Linked DNA regions of Homo sapiens. The protein of the gene in region 1 purifies or fractionates together with the protein of each later gene. This does not show direct contact. Each region holds a gene or a part of one and is shown on either strand. Other genes may lie near its edges. The genes, in order: GART, WARS1, AKR1C2, PFAS, PLOD1, MSN and HIP1R.

What was found.
Region 2: the proteins of GART (region 1) and WARS1 fractionate together in Homo sapiens (co-fractionation; one large-scale study listed by BioGRID). This does not show direct contact.
Region 3: the proteins of GART (region 1) and AKR1C2 fractionate together in Homo sapiens (co-fractionation; one large-scale study listed by BioGRID). This does not show direct contact.
Region 4: the proteins of GART (region 1) and PFAS fractionate together in Homo sapiens (co-fractionation; one large-scale study listed by BioGRID). This does not show direct contact.
Region 5: the proteins of GART (region 1) and PLOD1 fractionate together in Homo sapiens (co-fractionation; one large-scale study listed by BioGRID). This does not show direct contact.
Region 6: the proteins of GART (region 1) and MSN fractionate together in Homo sapiens (co-fractionation; one large-scale study listed by BioGRID). This does not show direct contact.
Region 7: the proteins of GART (region 1) and HIP1R fractionate together in Homo sapiens (co-fractionation; one large-scale study listed by BioGRID). This does not show direct contact.

Annotation. Positions count from the first base shown.
Region 1 is NC_000021.9:33,521,618-33,525,117, forward strand, and holds part of GART (trifunctional purine biosynthetic protein adenosine-3), read right to left. Parts: intron 3,384-3,500; coding exon 3,152-3,383; coding exon of another isoform or gene 3,148-3,151; exon of another isoform or gene 2,392-3,147; intron 666-2,391; coding exon 571-665; intron 1-570. UniProt on the Homo sapiens protein: Trifunctional enzyme that catalyzes three distinct reactions as part of the 'de novo' inosine monophosphate biosynthetic pathway.
Region 2 is NC_000014.9:100,365,348-100,368,847, forward strand, and holds part of WARS1 (tryptophan--tRNA ligase, cytoplasmic), read right to left. Parts: intron 1,697-3,500; exon of another isoform or gene 1,241-1,696; intron 1-1,240. UniProt on the Homo sapiens protein: Catalyzes the attachment of tryptophan to tRNA(Trp) in a two-step reaction: tryptophan is first activated by ATP to form Trp-AMP and then transferred to the acceptor end of the tRNA(Trp).
Region 3 is NC_000010.11:4,987,275-4,990,566, reverse strand, and holds the end of AKR1C2 (aldo-keto reductase family 1 member C2), read left to right. Parts: intron 1-528; coding exon 529-571; 3' UTR 572-2,792; downstream 2,793-3,292. UniProt on the Homo sapiens protein: Cytosolic aldo-keto reductase that catalyzes the NADH and NADPH-dependent reduction of ketosteroids to hydroxysteroids.
Region 4 is NC_000017.11:8,259,289-8,262,788, forward strand, and holds part of PFAS (phosphoribosylformylglycinamidine synthase), read left to right. Parts: intron 1-3,500. UniProt on the Homo sapiens protein: Phosphoribosylformylglycinamidine synthase involved in the purines biosynthetic pathway. Catalyzes the ATP-dependent conversion of formylglycinamide ribonucleotide (FGAR) and glutamine to yield formylglycinamidine ribonucleotide (FGAM) and glutamate.
Region 5 is NC_000001.11:11,951,717-11,955,216, reverse strand, and holds part of PLOD1 (procollagen-lysine,2-oxoglutarate 5-dioxygenase 1 isoform 2 precursor), read right to left. Parts: intron 2,595-3,500; coding exon 2,482-2,594; intron 388-2,481; coding exon 324-387; intron 1-323. UniProt on the Homo sapiens protein: Part of a complex composed of PLOD1, P3H3 and P3H4 that catalyzes hydroxylation of lysine residues in collagen alpha chains and is required for normal assembly and cross-linkling of collagen fibrils.
Region 6 is NC_000023.11:65,674,154-65,677,653, reverse strand, and holds part of MSN (moesin), read right to left. Parts: intron 1-3,500. UniProt on the Homo sapiens protein: Ezrin-radixin-moesin (ERM) family protein that connects the actin cytoskeleton to the plasma membrane and thereby regulates the structure and function of specific domains of the cell cortex.
Region 7 is NC_000012.12:122,848,957-122,852,456, reverse strand, and holds part of HIP1R (huntingtin-interacting protein 1-related protein), read right to left. Parts: intron 2,583-3,500; coding exon 2,502-2,582; intron 1,623-2,501; coding exon 1,546-1,622; intron 1,222-1,545; coding exon 1,160-1,221; intron 1-1,159. UniProt on the Homo sapiens protein: Component of clathrin-coated pits and vesicles, that may link the endocytic machinery to the actin cytoskeleton. Binds 3-phosphoinositides (via ENTH domain).

The DNA.
Region 1 (3,500 bases):
CCAGACTTTGTCTCAAAAAAAAAAAAAAAAAAAAAGGAAGTAATTAAATACTAAAGGACCAGCCAGACATGGTGGCTCATGCCTATAATCCCAGCACTTTGGGAGGCTGAGGTGGGCAGATTGCCTGAGGTCAGGAGTTCAAGACCAGCTTGGCCAACATGGTGAAATCATGTCTCTACAAAAATACAAAAATTAGCCAGGCATGATGGTGGGTGCCTATAATCCCAATTACTTGGGAGACTGAGGCAGGAGAATCGCTTGAAATCAGGATGCAGAGGTTGCAGTGAGCCGAGATGGTGCCATTGCACTCCAGCCTGGGCAAGACTCTTGTCTCAAAAAAAAAAAAAAAAAAAGTAAAGGAGCATACATATCCTTTTGAGTTTAACATGACAGATGAGAAATACTTTAATATTAAAGAAAAGAAAGCAGAAGACTGGGTTTGGCTTAAGCAGGGCAAAACTTACAGTAACCAAGCATTGCTTTGGAAAATATTCCTGTTAAATATAAAACCCAAATCCATTCACAATGTATATCAAAGTTAATGAATTAGCAAAGTATAGGATCACTGACCTGATCTGGAAGTGGCTTTTGCTAAAGGCTGAATTTTCTTGACCAGCATATTTCCAGCTGCGATATCTACTCCAGATTCCTTGTAAGTCAAACTCCTAAAGAATTAAAAACAAGTCATCACCTAAACGTCAGGGAAAATTATTTTAATCTTAAAATATTATTTAAAGCAGAAGATATCCCAAGTGATTTTCACATACCCTAAAGTGCTTAAATTTTTTTAAAGTCAGTGCCTGGGCCACATCTATACAGATTCTGATTTAACTGGTCTAGGGCAGGCTCTGGGAATTGAAATGAGTTTGAACCATCTCCCCAGTTGACTTGATTACATCATCCCTGAGAACCGCTATTCTAACTCAATCACCTATTTCTTCTACAAGTACTTCTCACAGGCTGCTAAATATACTGATTCTTTTAAATGATTTTTTATTAAGGTAGAATATACACAACATAAAATTCAGCATCTTAACCATTTTTAAGTGAACAGTTCAATAGTATTGAATACAATTATAATGCTGTGCACCCGGCACCATCATCCATCTCCATAATCCTTTATCTTGTAAAACTGAACGTCTGTCCCAGTTAAATAACTCCCCATTCCCCACTACCCCAGACCCTGGCAACCATCTGTTTAAAAGTAGATATACTGACATTTTGCTGCAACTTTTCTCAGTTCAATTTTGGTATGAACAAGAGAGGAATGCCTAATCAAGTCAAAAAAGTGAAAATTAGATTTGTAAAAACCGTACACAAGTATCCCTAAATAATTAAACTGAGTTCTTAATTTCAGTAATATATAACTGTATCTGTTTCCTAATAGCTGAGGACAGTAAACACTATGACAAAAGCAAAACCAGGTAAAGATACTCAGTGCATCATTTCCTTCTGTATAGGACCCACAAGTCGGAGCAGTACATTTAGAGATCAAATTTTTGAATGACACTGCAGATTTTGTAGTCTTGACTTGCAAAAATGAGAACTCTGGCCTGCTGGGATGCAGTGATACATGAAGAAATATGTGTTTTTATAGAAGTGTCTTTAAAAAAAGCATACAAAAACAAAAAACAAAAAAGCTGCCAGAATACAGTTGAGTGCATTGGCAGTTAACTCAAATAAAGCCAGCAGCTCTGGGTCACTCTCAGATAGAAAACAAAGACTGATGTTAAAAAACCTTTTCTCCAGTAGCAACTAACACTGTGGCATTTCCATTTTTTCATCTTTATAACTTAAATAATTCAGACTAGAATTGAGATTGCAGTCCCTTGAAATAGGTCATTTCAATGGAATCTAGTCATTTTTAAATGAAAAATAAATTTTTAGCCTGGTATTTTGATGTTCTTGATTCTTGGAAAATCTGTGTTTAAACTTTAAAAAAACCTGCCTCTTGGTAACAGTATAGCTTGAATTACGTTGGTAAAAAAATTTTGTCTTAAAATTTATTCATTATCCGTAAATGAACTTCACGAACAATAGCAAATGTGATATATTTTTAAGAAATCAGGCCGGGCACGGTGGCTCACGCCTGTAATCCCAGTACTTGGTGAGGCTGAGGCAGGCAGATCACCTGAGGTCAGGAGTTCGAGACCAGCCCGGCCAACATGGTGAAACCCCATGTCTACCAAAAACACAAAAATTAGCTGGGCACGGTGGCAGGCACCTGTAATCCCAGCTACTCAGGAGGCTGAGGAAGGGGAATCACTTGAACCCGGGAGGTGGAGGTTGCAGTGAGGCGAGATCATGCCACTGCACTCCAGCCTGGGCGACAAGAGCAAAATTCTGTCTCAAAAAAAAAAAAAAAAAAAAAAAGAAATCAAAACACCCACATTTCCAACTAAGACTTTATTGATTTTACAAGTCAACAGTTTGTACATACCAACAATGAATCAGTAAGAGGTCAAAAAATACATTTTAGTAATAGATACAAACGCAGTGATAAAATGAGACTGTCAAACTTTACAGTATAATCAAATCAAATTACAAAGTTAGATGACCAGTATTCTCATCTTCAGTTCTTTGATAAAACCATGAACTATGTTTCAAATACAACACTATGTGATAACGCAAGGAATAAAAATCAGTATCAGGCCAAGTGCAGCGGCTCATGCCTATAATCCCAGCATTTTGGGAGGCCAAAGCAGGAGGATCACTTGAGCCCAGGATTTCAGACTGGCCTTGGCAACATGGTGAAACCCCATCTCCACAAAAAATACAAAAAAATTAGCCAGGTGTGGTGGCCTGTGCCTGTAGTCCCAGCTATTTGGGAGGCTGAGGCATGAGAACTTGGGCGAGAGAGGAAGACCCTGTTAAAAAAATTAAAAATATAAAATAAAAAAAATAGAAAACAAATAAAAATCAGTACCACTGTGATTTTGCTAAACTTTCCAAACTTACGCTATCATGAAGTTTTTTCCATTTGAGTATTGCTATAACCAGTTTTGATTCAAACAAAATACAAACCAAGACTGTATCACTCCCACAGAGAGAAAAGAATACTGAATGACTTATAGGGTTAATGAAATGTTCTACATAGCCATTTAGGCCAGTTTCTGAAATGGCACTACAGCTAACTTGCTTAGAGTTTTACCTGGGCTGCTGGAGGAAAGCTATGGCACGAAAGCCGACGTCTTTCCTATAAATTGCTCCCTCAAACTTTATAGCAGCTAGTCCTTTCTTGGCTTCCTCAAGGGCTGATATGAGATTTTCCCGGATGGCTGTGACTGCAAGAACTCTACCCCCATGAGTTACTACTTTGCCATTTTTGAGGGCAGTGCCTGCATGGAACACCTCCAGTCCTAGAGCTTGAGCCTCAGGAAACCCTAGAAGAGAGCATATTTGACATATGATTTCAAATAGCAACAGTATTTCACACCGTGAAGTGATTTACGATTTCCACAAGTTTCTTTTTTTTTTTTTTTAACTTGGCTAGGTGCGGT
Region 2 (3,500 bases), on another chromosome or scaffold:
GGCGGGCGGATCACCTGAGATCAGGAGTTCAAGATTAGCCTGGCCAACATGGCAAGACCCCCTCTCTACTAAAAATACAAAAATTAGCCGGGTGTGGTGGCGGGCGCCTGCAGTCCCAGCTACTTACGAGGCCAGGGCAGGAGAATCGCTCGAACTCAGGAGGCAGAGGTTGTAGTGAGCCAAGACTGTGCCAGTGCACTCCAGCCTGGGCGACAGAGTGAGACTCAGCCTCAAAAAAAAAAAAAAAAAAAAAGTGATGGAAGTCATGGAGAAGCCGGAGTGGAGTCACCCCAGAAGGAAATGAAATGCTTATGTTCTAGTTAAAGATGCGTATTGATGATGATATTTCTGAAATCTACTACAACAAAAGCAGAGATCTTCTTTTTTTTTTTTTTTTTTAAAGCATAATCCCACAAGGACAAAGGAAACAAGAAGAGGATGACAGCAACAAGGTTTCAGAAGCCAGAAAGCTGATGAATGATCAGTGCCTAACAGCATGAGAGAAAAACAAATGCTAAGACATCATGGAAATACTGGAAGGTGACCGAGTGTACACTGTTACGGAATCACCCAAAGGTTCGGGCCTTAGTGACCTTGCGCACTTACAGGAGTGGGGGCAGGAAAGCGGGTTATGAAAACAGGAGCGCTGGTTGAAGTCTCTTCAAGAAGCAGTTATTGAGAATCCCTCTCCCCTCGGCCAAGGGAGTGTCACAGTTTCCCCTCCATTCCAAGGTTTCATGTCAAGAGAGGACAGAGTTACAGGTGCCTAGACTGGGGGCAGTCTGCACAGTTGGGGCACTGGCAGCACACAGAGAATAGGGAGCTTCGGGGAAGGATCCCACAGCCCAGCCCTTCTCTCCCACTCAGCCGTAGAACTCTGGCAGCGGGACTCACCCCCTCTGAACAGTGGACTGGGGGAGCTTTCTCTGGGGAATCTCACTTAACTTTAAAGAAAAGATCTAAAGACCTTGACACGAAAGATTCCCCAACAAAAGGGGAGCAGCCTGGTCACTCTCCAGGAAGTGGAACCTATGTTGATAAGCTCTTCCCCAATGAAGAGTGCATCCAGCAGCTTTCAGTGCACCCCCCAAAACACCAGCAAATAGCCAAGAAACACCAAACAGTTGAGAATTGCCTCTAATATGAAAGGCAGGTAGAAAACAAATTAAGATGGAAGAAACTGAGGTTATAAAGGATGTAGAGGACATATGGAAAACTACCATTAAGATCTCAGAGAGAGAGAGTTGAGTGTCCTGAGAGGTCAGATTGCTGTCAGACATGGCCCATGGACATGGACATGAGCATGGACATCGTAAAATGGAACTTCTAGATTACAGACAACGGAAGACAGAAGGGACACCATTAGAAACTATCCAGAAGAAGCTGGCTGAAAAAGGGCTAAGGGATCCGTGGGGCCACAATGAAGCTTGAAGATACATGGGTGGCTTTGCAAAGAGTGTTTCCTTTTTTGATGTATTGTTTAAAGGATTCAAATGGGGATTTGCTGCATTTGTGGTAGCTGTAGGAGCTGAATATTACCTGGAGTCCCTGAATAAAGATAAGAAGCATCACTGAAGATAATACCTGGAAGTATCATAGTGGTTTCTTAACTCTCCAAAATAAGATTTCTTCACTGTAGCCTACTCGTCTGGTTTGTCCCTTACAGAATATTAGTAAGATTTAATACAGTAAAATAAGATTAAAAAAAAAAATCTCAGAGAGAAAAGGGTGGTACTGTACCTATGAGTCAGGGCAGAGTGCTGTGAGGAAACTTCAGGGAGCATACATGCTCCTGGAAGTTAAAAATGATAGCAGAAATGGAAAACAATAGGAGGGTTAGAAAATCAGAGAAACAGTCTCTGAATTAAAAAAAAAAGTCTGTGAAGAGAGAAAACAGAAGAGATCAAAGAAATCATGATTTCTGAGAATTAACGGCCATGAGTTTCTAGTCTAAAAGGCAGGCTGAGTGTGGTGGCTCACGCCTGTAATCCCAGCACTTTCGGAGGCCGAGGTGGGCAGATCATGAGGTCAGGAGTTTGAGATCAGCCTGGCTAATATAGTGAAACCCCGTCTCTACTAAAAATACAAAAATTAGCCTGGTATGGTGGCGGATGCCTGTAATCCCAGCTACTTGGGAGGCTAAGACAGGAGAACTGCTTGAACCCAGGAGGCGGAGGTTGCGGTGAGTCGAGATTGTGCCACCACACTCCAGCCTGGGTGAAAGAGTGAGATTCCATCTCGGGGGGCGGGGGTGGGGTGGCAAAAAAAAAAAAAAAAAAAAAAAGAAAGGCATACTGAACCTGCATCCCATGAAATTTCAGAACACGGGAACAAAGAAGATCCTGCTAACTTCCAAAAAGAAAAAACAAAGGAATGGCAACTGACTTCTCTGCAGCAAGCCCAGAAGCTAGGTGCCAATAGAGCAGTGGCTTCAGCATTTCCAGGGGAAATCACTTCCATGCTAGAACCCTACACCCAGCCTGGCTATCAATCATGTTTTAGGTAAAATAAATACGCTTTCAGATGGGCAAGATCCCCCTAGAAATATTTCCTTTGCAATATTTTTTTCAGAAACAATTGGAAGATTTGCTCTGCCCAAAGAGTAAAGCAAAGAGGAATAAAGATGCAGGAGCAGGAAACGGGGCACCCAATCGACAGGGGTGAAAGAACCCCTTGGGTCGACAGTGAAGAAAGACGCCAAGATGGGCAGTGTAGGAAGCAAGAGCCCCCACTTCAGAGGGAAGCAGGCAGAAGGTTTTGGGAGAGATCGCCTCAAGAAGATGAACTTGATAGACTAGTTGATGTGTGTTGAAAGGAGATTCACTGGACAGGGAAAGGGCTTGGAGATACATTATCATTAGTATCATTGACATAAAAAAGTCAAGCAAACAGATATTAAGACAAATATTAACTCCAGAGAAAACAAAAGCTGGGCGAGAAAGTTAGAGTACTCATTCTATCCGTGATGGTTCAGCTGTCCACGTCTATTTCCATGGTCATAATAATGTCAGTGTACAGATACTGACCTAACTACAACTGCAATACAGATGGGGAGACTGCCTGGACGGGAAGTGGTTGTGAAGGTACGAATGCTTCATTTCCACCTGAAAGACCCCAACTTGAAAATCAACAAGGAACAATATGATAAGCAGAATATTTACAGATATGGGGAGTACATAACCAAAAGATCGGCTAAAAGAATTGAGCAGGAAATAGGGAGAGGTGGGCTGGAGGGCCACTGTATTTCACAAAGGCTTTGAGAACCCCTGACTCTTTAGACCACAGGCATCCCAATGTTGATAAAGGAAAAATACATTTAAAACTATAACCAAGGCTGGCGTGGTGGCTCATGCTGGTAATCCCAGCACTTTGGGAGGCCAAGGTGGACAGATCACCTGAGGTCAGGGGTTTGAGACCAGCCTGACCAACGTGGTGAAACCCCCATCTCTACTAAAAATACAAAATTAGCTGGGTGTGGTGGTGCATGCCTGTAATCCCAG
Region 3 (3,292 bases), on another chromosome or scaffold:
AAACAATAATTTACGTTTCTAATCTAACCAAGTGTGTTGCGTATGATAGGCAGGTAGTAAGTAATATGTAAAGTAATAAAATAAAGTACAATTACTACCAGTATAATTATCACACTCAAAATTGTTTATTAGTGATGAGCATATATCTTCCTTATTCCTCTTCAATGTAAGGCAGAAGGAGTTCCTGTTTTTAGTGAGAATTTGAAATAGAAAAGGTCAGAATATCTCTTTGTTGACAGATGTGGGATCTGTTGTTGAGAGATGTAGAGAAACATGTTTGAACATTTCACTTTGTGTGTTTTATGTGTTAAGTTCCAGGCAGGGGAATAGAATTAAATTATTCTTTATTTTGAAAATACAGATATGATAAAGTCACGTTCATTAAACAAAGAAACACAGATTCTAGAGCAGTCAGAAAATGAACTTCTTAACATCTACACTAGCGGCAGCTTCCTAGAAATCACTGCGCTACGGGCTAGTAACGGAGTCATTGCCATTCAGAGTGTGCATTTTTTTTTCTCTTTCCAGTTTTGCTGGCCCCCCTAATTATCCATTTTCTGATGAATATTAACATGGAGGGCATTGCATGAGGTCTGCCAGAAGGCCCTGCGTGTGGATGGTGACACAGAGGATGGCTCTATGCTGGTGACTGGACACATCGCCTCTGGTTAAATCTCTCCTGCTTGGCGACTTCAGTAAGCTACAGCTAAGCCCATCGGCCGGAAAAGAAAGACAATAATTTTGTTTTTCATTTTGAAAAAATTAAATGCTCTCTCCTAAAGATTCTTCACCTACTTTGGTCTCCATAACTTCTATGTTTTCTCTCCTTCTGACACACTAGTGCCCCCAAATTGTGATTTGCCTATACGTTTAGGGCCGGGGTTGGAAGATGTTAACAACCATTTAAGATTCATTTCTGCAGTGGGAGTGGGTGGAGTTTCACCCTCTGGGAAAGGGGCAGGTGACAGGTATTTATCAGTCAGTGCCTCTCTAGCTCTTGTAGGAAGAAGCACACGCAGGATGGAGTCTAGAGGATGAGCGATATTGACTAGCAATTCATGGGCTCCCTCCAGCAGTGCGAGGGTCAGAGTTTCTGGAGCCTTGGGAGGAGGCATCCCTGTGAGGGGGGGTTAGGGAGATGGGAGGGCACCAGGAAAAGTGATTAGAAGTCAGGTATGGGAAGGCTAAATAGGACAGAGTCGAGTACATCTCTGCTTGGAAAAACATATCAACACCCTTTTTTTTGATCATTATATCTTGTTCATAAAAGAAAACTTTCCACATTGTTTTAACAAACCCCACAGCTGAGAGTCAGGCCTGAATCTTTGATGTGTGCCCATTCACAACGTTGACCCTATTGGTTTGTGGTGGGGCAGGACATCGAAGATATCATTGACTCATCACATTCCCCTGAATAGCTCATATTTAGAAAATATTCTTAGATTGTAAAAATGTACTGTTCATTTGTTATATGCAATCTTTTAAATGTTTTATACTTTAAACAAGGCATAGTTACAAGTATAAAACATAAATATCCCAAAGCCATTATGCATGGCACTCAAGATTAAAATGGGAAATAATACATCTAATAAATCAAATGTTCCAAGACTTCAAATGTCTTTTGGAAACAGGCTATGTAAAACAGCACACTGGTTTCAAACTTTGGTAAATTTTAAGAAGAACTCTTACAAAGGCATTTAATTCTTATACATAATTTTCAGGGGAACTAATCAAATCAGCTAATCATGAAGACATGATTTTCGTTTTAGAAAACACTTTTGAAAACTTGGGATAATCTCATGTCTTAATGATCAAAGCATTATGAGAAGGACAGTGGTTTTTTACCTGGGCACACTTTCTAACACATTTACTCTCCACTATTCGTACTCTGGTAGCCATGTTAACCCCATCAGAGATTCCTTCTCAAGCCATGTCTCAGAGCTGATAGGCATCCCAGCAAGTTTTGCAGCTCACAATTTTTCTGTAAATTACTTATTCTATAAAATTGGAAGAGGCCATAAACTTTGGAGGGCCCTAGACCAATTTTTTGGATTATTTCTGGTCTACTCTCATTCCGTTGATGATCTTAGATATTCTCTGCATTAAATATCACCTCTAGGCTGAGAAATCCACCAAAAAATATTTCTAGCTCAGCGTTTTCCTCCAAATCTTCAATGGAAGATCATAATGTGAACTCTGCATCTCCATGTTAAAGTTTAATGGACATTCACACTTAGCATGTCTCAAAGAAATCTCATGTAAACCATGGCCATCCTGTTCTACCTTAACTTTCTGAGTCTATGGAATGATAATTTCACATCTCATAAACTTGACTGATGTAAGTGTCAAGAAAAGATTGACATTTTGTTAAAACTTCGTAGCCAAGTGTGTAACGCTTAAGCAGACTTTCATATTTCAAATCTCTATAGCACGTGTAACTCTTTTTTCAAGATGTGAAATAATCATTAGGTCAGTCATTTGTAAATAGTACGGCTGCTGTGGGCTTTTTCCAGTTCTTCACCATCCATTTTTATAAAACTCTTATTGTTAAAAAAAAAAAGTTACTCAGAATTTCATAAAGCCAAACACCTGATTTCAGGAACACTTGAGATGTAAGAAAATTTTATAGGGACCTCCAATCACTAATTTTCCTATTTTTTCTCTCAAAGAAATGCTGAAGGGAGGAATTCAGGTTGAATGAAAGGAAATAGTAACTTACAGCCATATAGAGTTATAAAGACTTCTTGTAAATGTGAACATATGGTAAAATATAAAAACATGTATTTTTGAAATTTTGGATTCTACTCATTATTTTACTTCAATTTAAGATATAAATGTATAGAAATAAGTATAATTCTAAGCTAATACGTATGCAATGTAGGAAGCTGTAATTACTGACCAAAACTATGTGAAGTGGAGAAAACCTGGGGAAGTGGATGGTTTTAGATGAAACTGAAGTTAAATTCATATTGATTTAAAGTAAATTGTCATAACTTTATAAAGTTTTTCATCATCACCACAGCAATCACAAAGAGAATAATTATGAATATACGCAAGAGGAAATGAGAAGGGAATCCAAATGTCATTAAAAAAAAATCACGCCACCTCACAAAATGGTAACAGTGGATATAAAGGATAGAAAGCTATAAACCTGGTAGGAAAACATTGAAAATGGCACAAGTGACTCCTTCCCTGTCACCAATGACAGTCATGTGTTGCATAATGCCTGGGCTATCTTCTGAGAATGGCTTTGTTAGGCAACTGTGTCATGGTGGGGACATGATAGCATTAG
Region 4 (3,500 bases), on another chromosome or scaffold:
GAGACAGGGTGTTACTTTGTCACCCAGGCTGAAGAACAGTGGTTCTGTCCTAGCTCACTGTGGCCTTGAGCTCCTGGGCTCAAGCAGTTCTCCTGCTTCAGCCTTCCAAAGCACTGGGATTACAGGTGTGAGCCATGGTGCCCAGCCAGAATAAACTTGCTTTATATAAGTAGAATGAGTACATTCTAAAATAACAGTAAAAAGTATAGTTGGTTGGGCACAGTGGCTCACGCCTGTAATCCCAGCACTTTGGGAGGCCAAGGCAGGGGGATTACTTGAGGCCAGGAGTTTGAGACCAGTCTGGGGAATACAGTCAGACCCCTGTCTCTAAAAAAATTAAGAAATAAAACTTAGCTGGATATGGTGGTGTACACCTGTAGTCCCAGCTACCCAGGAGGCTTAGGTGGGAAGATCGCTTGAGCCAAGGAGCTCAAGGCTGTAGTGAGCTATGATCATACCACTGCACTCCAGCATGAGTGACAGAGTGAAACCCTGTCTCCAAAAAAGAATAAAAATAAAAAATAAATGTAGGCTGAGTGTGGTGGCTCACGCCTGTAATCCCAGCACTTTGGGAGGCCATGGTGGGCAGATCACCTGAGGTCAGGAGTTCAAGACCAGCCTGGCCAACATGGTGAAACCCCCTCTCTGCCAAAAATTCAAATATTAGCTGGGTGTGGTGGCGCGCACCTATAATCCCAGCTACTCGGGAGGCTGAGGCAGGAGAATCACTTGAACCTGGGAGGTGGAGGTTGCAGTGAGCCAAGTTTACGCCACTGCACTCCAGTCTGGACGTAAGAGTGAGACTCTGTCTCAAAAAAAAAAAAATTTTTTTTTAAGTGTGGTAAATACATAAACCAGTAATAGTCATTTATTGTCATTATGAAGTATTATGTAGTATACATACAATAATGGTTTGCAGTATACTTTTGTGTGACTGGCAGTATAGTAGGTTTATTTACAATAGCATCACCCACCAGCGTGCCACGATGCCACTAGGCAATAGGAATTTTTCAGCACAATTATAATCTTAAGGGATCACTGTTGTATATGTGGTCTGTTGTTAAGCAAAATGTCATTAGTCAGCCCATGACCAAAATGGAATCATACAATATGCGGCCTTTTGTGTCTGCCTTCTTTCACTTAGCTTAATGTTTTCAGGGGTTATCCGTTGCATCAGTACTTTATTTCTTTTTATGGCTGAATAATATCCCATTATGTAGCTATGTCGCATTTTGTTTACCCATTCCTTAGTTGGTGGACATTGGGGTTGTTTCAGCTTTTTAGCTATTATGCATAATGCTGCTATGAACATTTATGTACAAGTTTTTTTGTTTTGTTTTGGTTTGGTTTTTTTGAGACGGAGTCTCGCTCTGTCGCCCAAGCTGGAGCGTAATGGCGCTTTCTCGGCTCACTGCAAGCCCCGCCTCCCGGGTTCACGCCACTCTCCTGCCTCAGCCTCCCGAGTAGCTGGGACCACAGGTGCCCACCACCACGCCCGGCTAATTTTATGTGTTTTTAGCAGAGACGGGGTTTTGCCGTGTTAGCCAGGGTGGTCTCTATCTCCCGATCTCGTGATCCGCCTGCCTCAGCCTCCCAAAGTGCTGGGATTACAGGCGTGAGCCACCGCGCCCGGCCTATGTACAAGTTTTTGTATGAACATATGTTATAATTTCTCCCAGGTATATAACTAGGGGTGGAATTGCTGGGTCATGTGGTAACTATGTTCAGCTTTTCAAAAAATTGCCAAACTGTTTTCCAAAGCAGCTGTACCATTTTACATTCTCTCTGGCAGTGTGTGAGGGTTCCAGTTTCTCCACATGCTTGACAACACTTGTTAATATCTGTCCTTTTGATTGTAAGGCATAATAGTGGGTATGAAGCAGTATTTCATTGTGGATTTGGTTTGTTTTTCTCTAATGACTAATGATGTTGAGCGTGTTTTCTTTCTTTCTTTTTTTTTTTTGTAGAGACAGAGTCTTGCTCTGTTACTCAGGCTGGAGTGCAATGGCGCAATCTCAGCTCACTGCAACCTCCGCCTCCCGGGTTCAAGCAATTCCCCTGCCTCAGCCTCCCAAATAGCTGGGATTACAGGCACGTGCCACCACACCTAGCTAATTTCTTTTGTATTTTAGTAGAGATGGGGTTTCACCGTGTTGCCCAGGCTGGTCTCAAACTCCTGAGCTCAGGTAATCCACCCGCCTCAGCCTCCCAAAGTGCTAGGATTACAGGCGTGAGCCACCGCACCTGGCCGAGCATGTTTTCGTATGCTAGTTAGCTATGCGTATATCTTCCTTAGAGAAACATCTATTCAGATCCTTTCCTATTTCTTTTTTCTTTTTTGAGATGGGATCTCACTCTGTCACCCAGGCTGGAGTGCAGTGGTGCGATCTCAGCTCACTGCAACCTCCATCTTCCGGGCTCAGGCAATCCTCCCACCTTAGCCTCCTGAGTAGCTGAGACTACAAGCTCCGGCCACCATGCCTGGCTAATTTTTGCATTTTTTGTAAAGATTGGATTTCACTGTGTTAGCCAGGCTGGTCTCGAATTCCTGAGCTCAAGCGATCCGCCCGCCTCAGTCTCCCAAAGTGCTGGGAGTATGGGTGAGTTCTCCCACAGTTTCTACCCTGGAGCCCCCAGGCTTCAGGACCCTTCCGCATCCAGAGGTTGCAGTGAGCCGAGATTGCATCACTGCACTCCAGCCTGGGCAACCGAGCAAGACCCCATCTCAAAAAAAAAAAAAGTTTTTAGTGTATAAGCCTTACTTCTATTGTTAAATTTATTCCTAATTATTTTTATTCTTTTTGATGCTACTGTAAATAGACATAGATATTTTTGCCTTTTTCATTTTTCGCTTAGCAGTATATCTTGGAAATAATTTCATATTGATGAAATCATATTACTTCATTACATTCCTATATTCTCTTTTTTTGGTGGCTTAGTCTTTCATTGTATAGACTTACCATAGTTTACTTAATGAGGTCTCTGTTGTCAGCCTTTAGGTTATTTCATGTACTTGCTAATACAAACGTTACTGTGGTGTTTAATCTTGTAAGTAGGTGATTTTATACCTGTGCAAATAAATCAGCGGGATGACTTCCTCAAAGTGTATTTACCCAATCAGAGACTGTGTGCATTTGTCATTTTGGTTGTTATTGCCAAATCGTCCTCCGTAGTTGATATCAGTTTACTCTCCTATCAACCCAGTCAAGTGGTAAGGCTTCTGGGCTAGGCAGGGTGGCTCACGACTGTAATCCCAACACTTTGGGAGGCCGAGGTGGGCGGATCACCTGAGGTCAGGAGTTTGAGACCAGCCTGGCCAAGATGGTGAAACCCTGTCTCTACTGAAAAAATACAAAAATTAGCCGGGCACGATAGCAGGCGCCTGTAGTCCCAGCTACTCAGGAGGCTGAGGCAGGAATATCGCTTGAACCCAGGAGACGGAGGTTGCAGTGAGCTGAGATCACACCACTGTACTTCAGCCTGGACAACAGAGCGAGACT
Region 5 (3,500 bases), on another chromosome or scaffold:
GGAAGGTGGGAGGGCCGGGAAAGTGGGGAAAGAGGGCCCACCTGTAAGGACCTGGTATGCAGGGCAGGGGGTCCAGCACCTGCTGTGCGCATCCCCCAACTCCTCCCAGGCTGAATGCTCACTTGTCCCCCGCCCCCAAGAGAGACATGGCTCTGCGCCAGGATATCCAAGTGGCCCCTGGGGACCTGGGGATGAGGCCAGTGACCTCTCAGCACAATGGCCAGAAAGAAGCAGCCCATTTCTCCTCCCTGGGCTCGGGCCCTGCCTGGAATTCTTCCTATCACCCCTCTGAGGATCCACCCCTCCCCGTGGGGGCTGCTCACCCAAGGCTCCATCCAGGTTCTGGAAGATACGGCAGCGGTGGTCCAGGGTGATATTGATCTGCTCCTGCAGGAAAGAAGGTACCAGACTGCAGCAGGGACAGGCCCTGGGGGAGGCTGGGGCTACATCTCACCCAGTGTGGGGAATCTGTCCCCAAGTTCAGCCCTCATTCCCCACACCGACTCTGCCACGTCACATCAGGGCAGCTAGGTGCCCAGAGAAGGCCAGCAGCCAAGCTCCTGGGGTCTACAGTCTAGTGGCTCTACTCACAGAAAACCAGGGACTCTGAACTGGAAGGAATCTAAGAATGCAGCCGGCTCACCTACAACAATGACGGCCGTTAAGAGTAACCAGCACCTGCCAAGCACTCCACTACACGCACATAGCTACTCCAAATATTCTTTTTTTTGAGAAAGAGTTTCGCTCTTGTCACCCAGGCTGGAGTGCAATGGCACGACCTCGACTCACTGCAACCTCCGCCTCCTGGGTTCAAGCGATTCTCCTGCCTCAGACTCCTGAGTAGCTGGGACTACGGGCATGTGCCACCATACCCAGCTAATTTTTTTTTTTTTTTTTTTTTTTTTTGCTAGAGATGGGATTTCACCACATTGAGCAGGCTGGTCTCGAACTCCTGACCTCAGGTGATCCGCCCCCGCCCCCCGCCTCCCAAAGTGCTGGGATGACAGGTGTGAGCCACCGCACCTGGCCGCTACTCCAAATATTCTACACGAGTCGGGTGCGGTGGCTCACTCCTGTCATTCCAGCACTTTGGGAGGCTGAGGCAGAAGGATCACTTGAGCCCAGGAGTTTGAGACCAGCTTGGGCAACATAGCAAAACTTCATCTCTATAAAAAAATCTTAAAATTAGCCAGACATGGTGACGCAGGCCTATAGTCCCAGCTACTCAGGAGGCTGAGGTGGGAGGATCGCTTGAGTCCGGGAGGCTGAGGCTGCAGTGAGCTATGTTTCTGCCACTGCGCATCAGCCTGGGTGACAGTGAGACCCTGTCTCAAATAAATAAATAAACTATTCTACATATATTAATCAATTTAATCCTGACAACATCTCTGTGAGAAAGTATTATCATTATTGCTTTTTTTTTTGAGATGGAGTCTGGCTCTTGTCACCCAGGCTGCAGTGCAATGGCACAATCTCGGCTCACTGCAACCTCCGCCTCCCAGGTCCAAGCAATTCTCCTGCCTCAGCCTCCTGAGTAGCTGGGATTACAGGCACCCACCACCACGCACGGCTAATCTTTATATTTTTAGTAGAGACAGGGTTTCATCATGTTGGCCAGGCTGGTCTCAAACTCCTGACCTCAGGTGATCCACCCGCTTTGGCCTCCAAAGTGCTGGGATTACAGGCATGAGCCACTGGGTCTGGCCCATTATTGCATTTCATAACGGAAAAAACAAGGGACAGAGAAGTTGCCCAATGTCACACAGCTAGTAAATGGTGAGCTGGGATTGGAACCCAGGCAGCCTGGCCCTGAAGTCCTTATTCTGAACCAATGAACAATGCTGCCTCTTTAAGACCCGACAGCCGGGCACGGTGGCTCACGACTGTAATCCCAGCACTTTGAGAGGCCGAGGCGGGTAAATCACCTGAGGACAGGAGTTCGAGACCAGCCTGGCGAACGTAGTGAAACCCTGTCTCTACTAAAAATACAAAAATCAGCCAAACGTGGTGGTGCACGCCTGTAGTCCCCGCTACTCGAGACGCTGAGGCTCGAGAATCGCTTGAACCAGGGAGGTAGAGGCTGTAGTGAGCCGAGATCGCACCACTGTACTCTAGCCTGGGCAATACAGTGAGACTCCATCCCAAAAATAAAAAAATAGGATTAGTGTCCTTATCAATGAGGCCCCAGTGAGCTCCCTACCCCCTTCCACCATCTGAGGACACAGAGAGAAGTCAGCTGTGTCTGTACCAGTTAGAGGGCTCTGACCAGAACCCAACTGTGATCTCACCCTTCCGGCCTCCAGAACCATGAGAAATCCACATCCGTTGTTTGGGAGCCACCCAGCCTATGGCAGTTTGTCAGAGCAGCCTGCATAGACTAAGACACCAACCCAGGGGTTCAGGCCTGAGAGGAGCTGTTCCCGTGCAGCCTGGCCGGTGGATCCCCAGCCCCCTCTCCTTGGCCCGCCCACTGCCTCTTACCCTCTTCTCCGGGTCCAAGAAGATCTTGGTGTAAAACAGCTGATCGCTGTCGCTGTCCTGGCCCTCCCACTCGGCCACCAGTTTGCTGAGGTTGGGGGCATAACCGATGAAGCCTGAAGGTTGGTGGGTGGGGACACCAAGACGGACCCTTAGCTTCCAGCCTCTAAGTCAGGGGCCTCCTCCCACCCTTCCCTCTTATCCACCTCCACTCATATGCCCACAAACCCTGTCACCTCTCAGAAGTCCTCCTGAATTGACAGGAGGTGGGGCTGCAGGTTGGAAATGGGGCTGCCAGTGAATGTCACTTATTAATGAGTTCCTAATGACCCCAAGAATAAGACCAATGGTGCCCACTAAGCTGTACTGTTCAGTGCTGGGCACCATATAGGTGGTGAAGAAACGGATTGTACGAGGAGCCCCTGGAGAGCAGGGCTGGGAGGATACAGGCCTGGTGTCCCTTTTTACAGTTATCTGGGAAACCTGGCCCAGAGAAGGGAAAGGCTGGGCCAAGCTCACAGAGTGCCTTGGGGGCTGAGACCTGGCATAGTGGGGAAGCCCACATGGGCCCCTGGCTAGAGTACAGACTGGTGACAAGCAACCACAAGAGCAATGGGACATCCCTACTCCTGGGCCTGGGCCAGGGCAAGGCCATCTGGACTGTGCTTACTCTGGACCAGTGGAAAAAAGTGTCTGTTGAGGGCAGATGGCAGATCCCCATCTAAGGTTGAAAAGAGGCCTGTGGATTTTATTCTCCGTGCAGTGGAAAGTCATTAAGTGATGTGTGTGAATTTGCATCTTTATTTATTTATTTATTTTTAAGACAATGTCTCGCTCTGTCGCCCAGGCTGGAGTGCAGTGGCACGATCTCGGCTCACTGCAAGCTCCGCCTCCCGGGTTCATGCCATTCTCCTGCCTCAGCCTCCCGAGTAGCTGGGACTACAGGCGCCTGCCACCACACCTGGCTAATTTTTTGTATTTTTAGTGGAGACGGGGTTTCATCGTGTTAGCCAGGATGGTCT
Region 6 (3,500 bases), on another chromosome or scaffold:
CCCAAGTAGCTGGGATTACAGGCTCCCGCCAACACGCCCGGCTATTTTTTCTATTTTTAGTAGAGACAAGGTTTCACCATATTGGCCAGGCTGGTCTCAAATTCCTGACCTCAAATGATCCACCTGCCTCAGCCTCTCAAAGTGCTGGGATTACAGGCATGAGCCACCACACGCAAACTCCATGTGCCTCTTTCTAATATTGCTGATATTTTCATGTTGGAGAAAAAGAAAATTAAAAGGCAAAGAAGTTATGTGACTTTTCTTCTTTGTAAAGGAATTAGTCAGTCTCCCACAAGTATCTACAAGGATGTTTGGAGAGGAGTTTAGCTCACTTAAAACCCTTGAAAATAGCAAAGATTTGTACGACTTAACTAATGATGCCCAGATTGACTGTTACCTTGACCCTCACCCTCCAACTCTATACCATAGATTAGTCAACCTCAGTTAAAAATTACAACAGATAAAAGAGGCTCTTGGTGAGCTTCATCAAACATCCAGGCTGAGAATCTGAAAAAATAAATGGATCAGCCAGGCGCAGTGCCTCACGCTTGTAATCCCAGCACTTTGGGAGGCTGAAGCAGGCAGATCACCCGAGGTCAGGAGTTCAAGACCAGCCTGGCCAACATGGTGAAACCTCATCTCTACTAAAAAAAATATAAAAATTAGCCGGGCGTGGCGGCGCACACCTGTAGTCCCAGCTACTTGGGTGGCTGAGGCAGGAGAATCTCTTGAACCCAGGAGATGGAGGTTGCAGTGAGCCAAAGTCATGCCACTGCACTCCAGCCTGGGCAACAGAGCAAGACTCCGTCTCAAAAAAAAAAGAAAAGAAAAAAAAGGAAATGGATCATGGGTTGGAGGGAAGGCAGATTAGATCACGAAAGTAAGATCAGGAACCTTATCTAAACACACAACTTGAGAAAAATAAGACTTGATCCTTCTCAGGTATTTAATGGAGGCCAAGGCTAAAGAGAGGGAAAGAAATACTGATCAAGCCTGACAGGTATGCCTTGTTCCCCCTCCTAGGCCTTGGCCCCAGTCACTTCCCAAATATATACCCAGGAAAAAAATTTTCAGGATTATATCTTGTTTTGTACAACCAAATTGTCATATCTCAACTCTTCTCTCATTAGGCCCTGATCACTACCCTGGATGCACAAAGTATCTATCAAATTCCCACAAGGTAGAAGGGTTGCCAGGAATGGGAAGAAACTTCAATATTCGAAGTCACCAATCACAGAAGATAACTGGCAAAACAGTTCTACTAAGCAAGCACAGAGCCATTTGCCATATTAGTGGCCTAAGAGCTATGTCAACACTTACCTTATGCCACAACAAGCCGATTGAAAGGAGCATCAGATCTGGTATCTGTGTCATTAGGCACAGACAAAGGGCTGTGCTTTGAAAGTCGCCCAAAAGGCCTTTTCTCCAAATTCAAGACCCAGATGCTGCAGCTGTGCCCTGGCCAGAAAACGTCATACTCCTCCACCTCTAACAACCACACACTGAGAAATCCTCCCTGCCATCTCCACCCTTTCCCAAATACCTGATTTTATAGCAAAGTCAATGAGAGAATTAAAAGCTGTTTCTAGGCTGCTGACATAAAGTTATTGCCAAGCTCTATTCTTTGGTTTAGTTCATGTGTAAGCATGAAGAAAAGACCCTCTCACATACCTACTTAGGCAACAAAAGCAACATTTTTAAAAATTAATTTGCCCAGGCTGGGCGTGGTGGCTCACACCTGTAATCCCACCACTTTGGGAGGCTGAGGCGGGTGGATCACCTGAGGTCAGAAGTTCAAGACCAGCCTGGCCAACATGGTGAAACCCCATCTCTACTAAAAATACAAAAATTGGCTGGGCGTGGTGGCGCATGCCTGTAATCCCAGCTATTTGGGAGGCTGAGGAACGAGAATCGCTTGAACCCAGGAGGCGGAGGTTGCAGTGAGCCAAGATTGCACCATTGCACTCCAGCCTGGGCAACAGAGCTAGACTCCATCTCAAAAAAAAAAAAATTAATTTGCCCAATTCTGGAAAACCAAAGGTATGGTCTCCCCCACAGGCCCTTGTTTGCCAATTAAGAAAGGATTGTTGGATCCAAATTACCCTAGAAAGAGTAGCTTCATCTATGCTTATATCTGTGGCTCCCCTTGAATCAGTCAGCAGCTCAAGCCTCCCTTCACTTCAGATAAAGTAACTTTCAAGAGAGCATTGGTCTAGGGCCATTGGTTTACACCCACATACCAAAAACACATCACTTTCCCACCCAGAACGGCCACTGCTCCCAAGTGTACACACCCTTTAAGGCCCTGTTCATGTCCCAGTAAACCCTTTCTCCTCAAAAAGTTGTAGAAAATGCAATGCAAAGTATATATTTTTCTCAAGCCGTTTTTAAGTGAATTAGCCCTAAATCCCCAATTAAATAGGAGATAGGAGATCTTTGAAGGCAGCAGTTGTATCATCCCTTCATTTATTTCTATCCCTTATGGTAAATAGTACATAGTAACCACTCATTAAATGGTAAGAATTCAACTACCTGTCTTCTTTCTTATCCATCCCATCTAGCACAAAGTTAGGCATATAGTAAAATTCAGTAAATAATCATAACATTTGTATATCACTTGTTAGATTCTAGGCACAGTTCTAAGCCCTTTACATAAATTACCTCATGTAATCCTCACAGCAACTCTGTAAGTACTATTATTATTTATGGTTAAGGAAAATGAGGTGCAGAAGTTAAATAACTTGTCCAAGGCTATATAACTAGTTGGTCGCAGAGCTAGATTTGAGTCCAGGCAGTCTAGTTCCAGAGTCTGTTTTTCAACACTACTCTATGCTTCCTTTCCACGGAGGCTTGAAAGGTCTTTTTTTAGCTTCCTGCCCCAGGCTTGGCCTATAAGCACCTAGAGGTGAGTGGTGAACTTTGAGGCCAGGAGATTCTAGTCTGCATTCAAACAATTTGCTACAGCAGCAAATACTGTCACTAAATTGAAAAAGTGCCATACTGTTCTCCTAACTCAAGGGACAGATCAAGCTGGAGCGCTGAGTCAGAATTCAGAATTCAAAAAGGTCAGAGCTCAAAATTAAACAGGGCAAAGAGAAAGCAGGGAACTGGGGTGAGGGGTAGACAGGAAGAGAAGACAGTCATCGGAGATCCCAGAAAAACTTGCTATAGCAAAACCATTTTAGGGGAACTCCATTGTACCCATCTTGTTAATGTAATCACCACAGAGCCAGTTCTCTGGAAGTCTGTGCTCTCTGGGTGGAGTCATCCTTCTAAGACAGCCAAGTCCAGTGGGAGACCACTAACTTGGGAATTAGGAAATCCAAGTTCTCCTTTCAATACTGTTACCAACTATATGTGACCTCGAACAAGCTGCCTAACCCCTCTGGCTATGAATACGATGAAGAAATTACTCTCTAAAGTTTCTTAGGACAGCAAGGCCTAGTCTCAAGCAGGAAAATGTGACTAGTGTCCTCTCTCTACCTCCCTTCAGCCTACAC
Region 7 (3,500 bases), on another chromosome or scaffold:
GGTAACTGGCTCCTACCTGGTGGGCTCTGTGCTGAGAGGCTCAGGCTCAGCACATCTCTGCCAGGACACAGAGCCTGGTAGCCCTGTCCTGCTGCACAGTTGGGGCCACACCTTTGGACACCTGCCCTCTGCTCTCCATGTCAGATCCTGAGCAGGCTCTTCCCAGGCACAAGGGTCCAACTCTGAGCCCACCTCCCACCCACTGGAACTGAATACCCATCAGGCTCGCCCAGCTGCACTGGCCAGACCTGGGGACTCAGGGAGGCTGCCCAAACTGCCTCTAACTCCCAATTTTCCCTTAAGGAGGCATTTGCTTCTTGCCCTCTTATGGAGAGCACTGAGTCACCCATGAGTTGTTTTGAAGCTGCCACCCAGAACAATCAGTTCTCCAGCCTGGAAGCTGAGCCCTCTGAGATTTCCTGTCCAACAGCGGCCGGGTTCCCTCGCTAGGAAGTCTGACGTGACTCAGAGGCTTTCTAGAGCAGAAAATGGCAGGACGACCCAAACCTTTCTTCCAGCTGGGCTCTGCAGATGGCCCAAGGCTGGGGCAGGAACCTGGCAAGGTGGCTCCTGTGCACACCTCCTCACCCTCCCTGTCTTGGGGCTGATGGAGTGACACTCACTGGATGGAAGAGATGGCTGAACCTGTATCCTGGATGTACCCGCTGGGGCCTGCCATGCTTTGGAGGGGCCAGGAGGCCCCATTACCTATCCCTGGAGGTGCAGGGACCCCAGGAGGGGCAGGGGCATTTCTTTTTCTTTTTTTTTTTTTTAAGACGGAGACTCACTCTGTTGCCCAGGCTGGAGTGTAGCGGCATGATCTCCGCCGCCCAGGTTCAAGTGATTCTCCTGCCTCAGCCTCCCAAGTAGCTGGGAATACAGGCGTGCGCCACCACGCCTGGCTAATTTTTATATTTTTTTAGTAGAGACAGGGTTTCACCATGTTGGCCAGGCTGGTCTTGAACCCCTGACCTCAAGCAATCTGCCTGCCTCGGCCTCCCAAAATGCTGGGATTACAGATGTGAGCCACTGCGGCTGGCCAGGGTCATTTCATAGTGATCAGTTGGTCTGATCACTCATGTCTTCTTTTTTCTTCTCGTCCCATCTCTGGGGACTTAGCAATACACTCAGACCCCCGCATCCCCTCTTTACGGCTCACCTGATTCAGAAAGCTTCAGCTCACAATCCATGTAATCAAACATCTCCACAGTGAGCTGGAAGCTACGCAAGAGAAGTGGGGGAAGAAATGAAAAAGGGTGGGTGGACCCACCCACTCGTCCTGAGACGCCCCCTCCAGTGGGGACGGGGGCACCGCCGACACCATGGCTCTGGTGAGACAGCGTGCCTCTGCCAGGACGACAGTCCTTCAAGTACACCCCACCCTTTTAACTTCACCCTCTGTCCCTGGGAGCGTGAGCATCAACCAACAAAGCCACGGACTCATTCAACCCCACTGCCCCATGCGGACGCCTGGGCGTGAGACGCGGTAGGAAGGAATGGGGAAGCCGAGGGGAACTGGCTATGTAGCCATGCAGAGTGACTCACATGTTGTTGACATCGGTCCCAGCTGCCTTCTCCAGTACCTCATCTGTCACCTCCAGGCCCGCGGGAAACTGGGGATGCTGTGGAGAGAACCCCCACCCAGCGGCCACTGAACCAGGGCCCCCCCACACCTGGCGGCCACCGAACCAGGGCTCCCCCCCACCCAGCGGCCACTGAACCAGGGCCCCCCACACCCAGCGGCCACCGAACCAGGGCCCCCCAACCCAGCGGCCACCGAACCAGGGGGCCCCCCCACCCAGCGGCCACCGAACCAGGGCCCCCCCCACCCAGTGGCCACCGAACCAGGGCCCCCCCCACCCAGCGGCCACCGAACCAGGGCCCCCCCACCCAGCAGCCACCGAACCAGGGGGCCCCCCCACCCAGCGGCCACCGAACCAGGGCCCCCCCCACCCAGCGGCCACCGAACCAGGGCCCCCCCCACCCAGCGGCCACCGAACCAGGGCCCCCCCACCCAGCAGCCACCGAACCAGGGGGCCCCCCAACCCAGCGGCCACCGAACCAGGGCCCCCCCCACCCAGCGGCCACTGAACCAGGGCCCCCCCAACCCAGCGGCCACTGAACCAGGGGGCCCCACGCTGGACCCTGCTCTTGGCAGACCCAGGCTGTGGCCCACATAGGTGGCAGAGGGCAGTGGAGGGGTTGGGAGGAGGGGAGCACCCGGCCAGCACAGCAGAGACTGAGGAAGCCCAGCGCTCATGTCCACAGAAACGCCTGGGGAAGCCCGTGCCCACGTCCACGGAAATGCCTGAAGTGTTCTAGGAGCTTCGTGATGCCCTGGCTTCCCCGTCTCCCCTTTAGTCATAGTTGGGACAAGAAGGTGAATGGAAAGACTCATGGAGAGGACAGATCCCACCCTCGATGTCCCAACATGTGCCATAACGTCACAGTGGGAAAAGCCCACGGGTCCCTCAGCCCCATGACTCCCCCGAGGAAACCACCTTGAGGTGGAAGGAGATCTTGGTCAGCAGCAGCTTGGTGTAGACATTCACCAGCTGTCCGTAGCGGTCATGCAAATGTCCCTGTGTGAAGACAGACAGGGTGAGGGGCCACGGCTCGTGAACACGTCCAAGAGTCCTCAAGGACCTGGGCACGAGAGTGACCCACCACCGGGCACTTCTTCATTCAACAAACGTCTTCTCCTGGCCTCCACCAACCACCCTCTCTGTCTCTAGCTTTTTCCCTTAATCTTCCTCCTTGTCATTCCTGCCAAAGAAACTCTTGTGAGAAGAGAGCTCTTTGTCCAGGGCGGCAGGCCAGTTCTGAGCAGGGACGCTTTATTAAAGTGCTGGTGCTGGCAGGGAGGCACGTCCCGACGGGCGCCTGGACACATCCTCCCTGCTCCCTCCTCCAGCCCCACGGCCCCTGCGGCCGGGCCAGCTGGGCCTGCATCTGCAGGTGGCACCATGGGCAGTGTTTTCCTCGCTTCAAGGGAAGTGAGTCCGGGCAGTGGTTCTGGGTTGGATAACGCCCTGGTCAGGCCTCCCTGTGGGTACCCGGTCCAGGGCCTGCCCTGCTCCTATGTCCCTGCCCAGGCAGACGAGCACCCCACAGTGCTCCAGAGAGAACCAGGCCAAGGCCCTCTGCCCACCAGGGACATCTCTAACTCCTGAGGTCTTGCAGTGCATCCAGATTGCAGGCCCCCCAGGGCTCTCAGGCCTTACTGTGTGTGTGCTCAAAATGCAGACCTCCAGTCCTGATTCTTCAGCAGCAGGTCTGGGGGAGCCCAGGAACCTGCGCCCTGCCACAGGCTCTCTAACCACCGAGGTGCCCGGGCTGTGGTCTTGCCACATTTCCCAACTCGTGAGGACTAAAGGGCCCGGGTGACTTCGACGCTGGAGGGCCCACTGGTTATGCGTGTGGAGCGCCCTGGGCCAGGCCCTCAAAGGCAGGCAGCATCTCCCCGTGCTGCCCCTCCCACTGTCGCCCCTGGGAAAACC